Linked DNA regions of Homo sapiens. The protein of the gene in region 1 purifies or fractionates together with the protein of each later gene. This does not show direct contact. Each region holds a gene or a part of one and is shown in the gene's direction. Other genes may lie near its edges.

Region 1 (3,421 bases):
CTTCAGTGTGGCTTGTTAGGGGTTCTCAATCCTGGCTGCACATTAGAATCACCTGGGAAACCTTGACAGCTACTCAAGCCTTGCGTTATGCTCAGTTTTGATTTTTTGTTTTTTTAAAAAATTGAATTACAATAGTTGTACATATTTTGGGGGTACATGTGATCTTTTAATACCTGTATGTGGGCTGGGTAGTCCCAGCCACTTGGGAGGCTAAGGCAGGAGAATCACTTGAACCTGGGAGGCGGAGGTTGCAGTGAGCCGAGATCCTGCCATTGCATTCCAGCCTGGGTGACAGAGTGAGACCCTGTCTCAAAAAAACAACAACAAAAAGAAACTGGCTTGGCGTGGTGGCTCATACCTGTTAGCCCAGCACTTTGGGAGGCCGAAGCGGGTGGATTACCTGAGGTTGGGAGCTCAAGACCATTCTGACCAACATGGAGAAACCCCATCTCTACTAAAAATACAAAATTAGCCAAGTGTGTGGCCGGGCGCGGTGGTTCACGCCTGTAACCCCAGCACTTTGGGAGGCCCAGGCGGGCGGATCACGAGGTCAGGAGATCGAGACCATCCTGGTTAACACGGTGAAACCCCGTCTCTACTAATAATACAAAACTTAGCCGGGCGAGGTGGCAGGCGCCTGTAGTCCCAGCTATTTGGGAGGCTGAGGCAGGAGAATGGCGTGAACCCGGGAGGCGGAGCTTGCAGCGAGCCGAGATCGTGCCACTGCCCTCCAGCCTGGGTGACAGAGCGAGACTCCGTCTCAAAAAAAAAAAAAGCCAACTGTGGTGGCGAACACCTGTAATCCTAGCTACTCGGCAGGCTGAGACAGGAGAATCACTTGAACCTGGGAGGCGGAGGTTGCGGTGAGCTGAGATCTCGCCATTGCACTCCAGCCTGGACAACAAGAGTGAAACTCCGGCCGGGCGCGATGGCTCATGCCTGTAATCCCAGCACTTTGGGAGGCCAAGGCAGGAAGATCACGAGGTCAGGAGATCGAGACCACGGTGAATCCCTGTCCGTACTAAAAATACAAAAAATTAGTCGGGCGCAGTGGCGGGCGCCTGTAGTCCCAGCTACTCGGGAGGCTGAGGCAGGAGACTGGCGTGAACCCGGGAGGCGGAGCTTGCAGTGAGCTGAGATCGCGCCACCGCACTCCAGCCTGGGCGACAGAGCGAGGCTCCGTCAAAAAAAAAAAACCTTTATGTGTACAATGTGTAATGATCAAATCGGGGTAATTGGGATATCTCTATGCTCAAACATTTAACTTTCATCCAGTTCTGATTTAATTGGTCAGAGGTCGAGCATTAAAAAGCACCCTAGGTAAATTTTACTGTACTTAGGTTATGCCTTTTTTTTTTTTTAAAGGCAGAGTCTTACTCTGTTGCCCATGCTGGAGTGCAGTGGCGTGATCTCGGCTCACTGCAACCTCCACCTCCTGGGCTTAAGCGATTCTCCTGCGTCAGCAATCCAAGTAGCTGGAATTGCAGGCGCCCGCCACCATGCCCAGCTAATTTTTGTATTTTTAGTAGAGACTGGGTTTCACCGTGTTGGCCAGGCTGGTCTCAAACTACTGACCTCAAGTGATCCACCCGCCTCGGCCTCCCAAAGTGCTGGGATTACAGGCGTGAGCCACCACGCTGGCCCAGTTATACCTTTTTTTTTTTTTTTTGAATTTTTTTTTTATTATTACGCTTTAAGTTCTAGGGTATATATGCACAACGTGCAGGTTTGTTACATAGATATACATGTGCCATGTTGGTTTGCTGCACCCATCAACTCATCATTTACATTAGGTATTTCTCCTGATGCTATCCCTCCCCCAGCCTCCCAGCACACCCAGTTATACCTTAAACTGAACTTAAAACAGCTCCCAGGTGATTCTAATGTGCAGCCACTATTAAGAGTCATTGATAAATGAGATTAAAGACCTTAATTTACGGCAAAGGTCCTGACACCTTTTTTTTTTTTTTTCCCAGATATGGCGTCTTACTCTGTGACCCAGACTGGAGTGCAGTGCCACAGTCTCGGTTCACTGCAAGCTCTGCCTCCCAGGCTCAAGTGACCCTCCCACCTCAGCCTTCTGAGTAGCTGGGACTACAAGGGCACACCACCAAGCCCAGATAGTTTTTATATTTTTTGTAGAAACGGGGTTTCATCATGTTGTCCAGGCAGGTCTTGAACTTCTGGGGTCAAGTGATTTGCCCACCTCAGTCCCCCAAAGTGCTGGAATTACAGGTGTGAGCCACTATGCCCGGCCCTAACATTTATTATTAAAGTGATAAGCTTTGTCTTCAATTTCTGTTGACTCACATTAGAGTAAAAATGAACATGGTATGAATCAGTGACCCTGCAATAGTATTTTTATTGGAGAACCTAGTCTAGCTTGGTTCAGAAATTGTCATTGTTTACCAGATATGCACTCCTTATAAAATTCTATGCTAGACATTCTATATACATTATTCTTTATTCATCATAACTCTGAAAAATGGTATTAGCACTAATCTGTAGAATAGGAAACTGAGGCTCTGAACTTCAGTAACATTACTAAAGTTACACAGCAAGCACAACAGAGCTTGGTTTCAAATAGAGAAGTAACTGTCATGGTTCTTTTTCCACTGTACTTCATTTCTTTATAGCTATGTTTTTGTTTTTGTTTTAGTGAAAGCAAGTTTATTAGGAAAGTAAAGAAATAAATATTGGCTACTTTATAGGCAGAACAGCCTGTAGCTGTGTTATTTTGCCTTTCTTCTTTATTTTTATTTTATTTTATTTTATGTTTTTGAGACGGAGTTTCGCTCTTGTTGCCCAGGCGGAGTACAATGGCGCAATCTCAGCTCACCGCAACCTCCACCTCTCGGGTGCAAGTGATTCTCCTGCCTCAGCCTCCCAAGTAGCTGGGATTACAGGCATGCACCACCATGCCTGGCTAATTTTGTATTTTTAGTAGAGATAGGGTTTCTCCATGTTGCTCAGTCTGGTCTCAAACTCTCGACCTCAGGTGGTCCGCCTATCTCAGCCTCCCAAAGTGCTGGGGTTACAGATGTGAGCCACTGGCCTATTTTGCCTTTCTTCTATTCCCTTGTTTTTGCTATTGGCTTTACAGAAATATCTTACCATCATGGCTGTGGAAATCAGTTTAGCATTTCCTCAAAAAGTTAAAACAGGCCAGGCTCAGTGGCTTACACTTGTAAATCCAGCACTTTGGGAGGCCGAGGCGAGCGGATCAACTTGAGGCCAGGAGTTCGAGACAAGCCTGGCCAACATGGTGAAACCCTGTCTCTACTAAAAATACAAAAATTAGGTGGGCTTGGTTGCACATGCCTGTAATCCCAGCTACTTGGGAAACTGAGGCAGGAGACTCGCTTGAACCAGGGAGGTGGAGGTTGCAGTGAGCAAAGATTGTGCCACTGCACTGCAGCCT
Region 2 (3,898 bases), on another chromosome or scaffold:
TCTTTTAATGGCACCTTAGATTGGGTGTACCAAAATTGGTCTAGTTGGAGTTATTCTTTCATTTTAGATATTCTACTTTTATTTTTCCCAGTAGAGCATTGGGGTGTTCATAATACATTGTGGATTCATATTAGATTTACTTGAAACCACTCAATTTTTTTTTAGGTGTGTTATTAATATAGTCAGGCAGTGTTTTCAGCTTGTCAAGGTTTTTTTTTTTTTTTTTTTTTTTCCTGAGACGGAGTCTCGCTCTGTTACCCAGGCTGGTCTCCATCTCCCGGGTTCAAGAGATTCTTCTGCCTCAGCCTCCTGAGTAGCTGGGACTACAGGTGCCCACCACCACACCCGGCTAATTTTTTTTTGTTTTTTGTATTTTTAGTAGAGACGGGATTTCGCTATGTTGGCCAGGGTGGTCTCAATCTCCTGACCTCATGATCTGCCCGCCTTGGCCTCCCAAAGTGCTAGGATTACAGGTGTGAGCCACGGCGCCTGGCCCAAGATTTTGTTTTTAAAAATGTTGTCAACTCCTATTTACTGTCCATCTTATCATTTATCACTTACAGATTTTCTCCTCTATTTTAATGGAAGCCTCTGGTTGAAAAAAAAAAAAAAAAAAGAAGCGTAGGCCACGTTAGGACAGAATCCTGTTCCATGTCATTAGGCATCCATCAAATATTTATCCTTTAGGAACTGTCACTAAGTCTCTTACTAATAATCTACCTAATTGTTCCTGTCCTCATTCAGGCCATAAACTTGTATCTTCACCAAAATTATAAAATTTTTGTCAGAGAAGGGTCTTCAAATACATTAATATATGAACTACCAACCTAGTAGTCCTGTCAGGAAAAGAAATGAACTAACATTTATTCAATATTTATTAAATAGTTGATGTATATTGGGTGTTCTTGAATGTACTGGGATGTACAGTTAGAAGAATGAGAAACAGAGCTTGTCTTTAAGGACTTCAATCTGGTAGATGAGACAATCATACCCAATAAATGACAATTTAAGTGTGATAGTAGAGTATGGTGTCTGGGATGACTTAATGAAACCATACTGAAGCTCCATGATTACCCTTTCTTTTAAATGGTCATAAATCATGTCTTTATTAATAGCTTTTTGAATCTTGTCAAGAATTGATACTAAGCTACTTTGTCTGACATCTATTCCTGTTGAAAAGTAGAGAAAGCCTCTAGAAAAATTACAGAAAGAAAGTAACTAGGAAAGTGTGTTTTACATATACTTGGAAACATAAAGCTAGAAGTTACCTCGGAGACCTAGTCTGGTGCAGGCCAGGGTAAGAGGCTTGTGTGTAATTACATAACTAGTTACCAAAAGTACTTGCATTAGATACTAGCTGTCCTGACTCAAGTTAGCGTTTTTGACCATGTCATACTTGTTCCACTATTTATGCAGAATTGGTTTTGTTTACTGCTAGTCAGACAGAACAAATAAACGTAAGCTAATATACTTAGTTTATCCTAGCACAAGGTGTGCATGTACATTAATATTTAAAAAATTGCTTTCTTTTATAGGTGGTTATTGGTGGTAGAAATAAATATTTAATCAATGGAGTCAATGCCAACAACACCAGAGTACAGGATCTCTTCTGTTCTGTTGGCCTTAATGTTAACAACCCTCACTTTCTCATCATGCAGGTATTTCGTTTGAGGTCTTTATATCACTTTCGTAATAGTTTCGACATTTTTTACTTTTAAGCAATTAAAATAGAAGTACTTTATGTTTTGGATTTTATACTTTTTATTTACTATTGTGCTGTGTCCGGCCATCTGTTTAGAAATATGGTTTAGTTACTTGCACTGATATATTCTACTGGATTATAGACCTTTGACTCCTCTAGAATGTTTAGAAGTAATTTTTGTTGACTTTTTGTTTTGTCACTAAAAGAACAATACATGTTAACTGTAAAAAAAAAAAAGCCATAATATATCCTTTTAAATTATTGGATTAATGCATCTTAATATTTCAAGTATAAAAGCTTGAGTAATTTTCTTAGAGACTCACACAAATGAGGAGTAAAGGCTGATTTTATCTTACATTTACATTACTTCATTTGACCCATCCAGCTGCCGTTTGAGAGAATTATAGTAAAGTCGATGGGAGCATCTCAGTGGGACCAAAATAAAAATATTTCCACTACACACCTTCATAGTTGAAACTTTACTTTAAATGAATCTACATTCTAGTAATACAATTCTCTGAGACCTGGGTGTGCAGGTGTTTTGCTTTATTTGTTTTTGGTAATGAATAAATTTAATGGTTTTCTGGCATTGATGTAAAATATTGTATTTTGTTTGAGGCCTAGAAGTATGTCATCTGTTTTGTGAAATTATCCTGGAGGGTTATCATTCAAAGAAATGTTAAAAGTTTTTTAATTATGCTGAAATTTCTTTTTATATTTACCTGTTTTAAATTTGAATATTTCTACTTAATGTTAACTGTCTCAGAAACATGATCCTTGTTAACTTTGTATCATTTAATGAATTATTTCATTTGTATCATTTCATAACTTCCATAATTTGTATCACTGGTGAGAAAGTGAATAGCAAAGTTCCAAAATTCTAGAATCATAGAAGAATTATAGAGGAAAGACCCCCCCAAAGATTGGTATATTGAGATACAACAGCTTCAGTCTAGATAAACATGAATGGCAGTACAGATAAACATTTTCTGTAATTTGTTATCTTAGTAAGTTTGCTATTTTATTTTCAGGGCCGAATTACAAAAGTATTGAATATGAAACCTCCAGAGGTAAGAGTACTATTTATGGACATTAAAAATAGTTGGTATAGATATTACTTTAATCTTTCAGACAATTTTTAAATATTCTATTAAAATTTTTGGAGACATTATTTGGGAATGATTAGTAAAGACAGTTGTATATTTGTGTAATATTTGGCACTATGCCCAAATATTAAAATTGATTTTGATTGTATAAAGGAGTCTTGCTTAGCTGGTGTTTCATGTCAGAATTCATTCCTACAGAAAAAGCCTACAGGAAAAGGTTTGTGTGAAATTACTATATTTAACCTATATGGTTCATTTGGGCCAACTTTTGGTAAGATGTTTAGTGAGGTCAAGGCAAAAATGATATATTTAATGTAAATTCCAGTTGGACACATTGTCTTGGATACTAAACATTAATAAAATTGTCATTCCAGATTTTATCCATGATAGAAGAAGCAGCTGGAACCAGGATGTATGAATACAAAAAAATAGCTGCACAGAAAACTATAGAAAAAAAGGAGGCTAAGCTGAAAGAAATTAAGACGGTAATTTAATTCATATAAAATATTTTCGGAGAAGAATGTAATTTTGCATGTAGAGTTTTTGCTGTAAAGAGGGAAAAATTTTTTTCCTTGGTTCAGTTTTCCATAGTCATCCCTGCTACTTCTCTTTCAAATAAATTTTAATGATACTTTACATGCGAAAATACTGATTTTTCTTTATTTTCCAGATACTTGAAGAAGAGATTACTCCAACCATTCAAAAATTAAAAGAGGTATATTCTGTATATGTGAGGATAATCTATTAGAATGTCTTTCAAAGTCAGCAATGTATCCAAAATCATACACATAGTGATACTATTTCTTGGGGGTTTTTTTCCTGCGATGAGATAAGGAATTAGAGTTGGCACTCCATAACTCAGCGTTCTGCTTACAGAGGATATGCACTTATCTGCTAAGTCATAGGATATTGGAGAGTAATTTTTATAGTTTCAGAAAATGGTATGCCGAATTTTAATACTTTATTTAAGCTAAGCAAGTCTGGATTTTCCTAGTTAGTTAGCATTGACTGGAACAACATTTCTTAAAGATAAGGCACTCTTAGACACCCTCATTGAGAACAATTTCCAGGATAACAGGGGCTATCACTA

What was found. The genes of interacting proteins can lie anywhere in the genome.
Region 2: the proteins of SERF1A (region 1) and SMC2 purify together in Homo sapiens (affinity purification with mass spectrometry, with the first as the bait; one large-scale study listed by BioGRID). This does not show direct contact.

The regions. Positions count from the first base shown.
Region 1 is NC_000005.10:70,903,209-70,906,629, forward strand, and holds part of SERF1A (small EDRK-rich factor 1), read left to right. Parts: intron 1-3,421. UniProt on the Homo sapiens protein: Positive regulator of amyloid protein aggregation and proteotoxicity. Induces conformational changes in amyloid proteins, such as APP, HTT, and SNCA, driving them into compact formations preceding the formation of aggregates.
Region 2 is NC_000009.12:104,096,911-104,100,808, forward strand, and holds part of SMC2 (structural maintenance of chromosomes protein 2), read left to right. Parts: intron 1-1,535; coding exon 1,536-1,658; intron 1,659-2,733; coding exon 2,734-2,772; intron 2,773-3,182; coding exon 3,183-3,293; intron 3,294-3,478; coding exon 3,479-3,523; intron 3,524-3,898. UniProt on the Homo sapiens protein: Central component of the condensin complex, a complex required for conversion of interphase chromatin into mitotic-like condense chromosomes.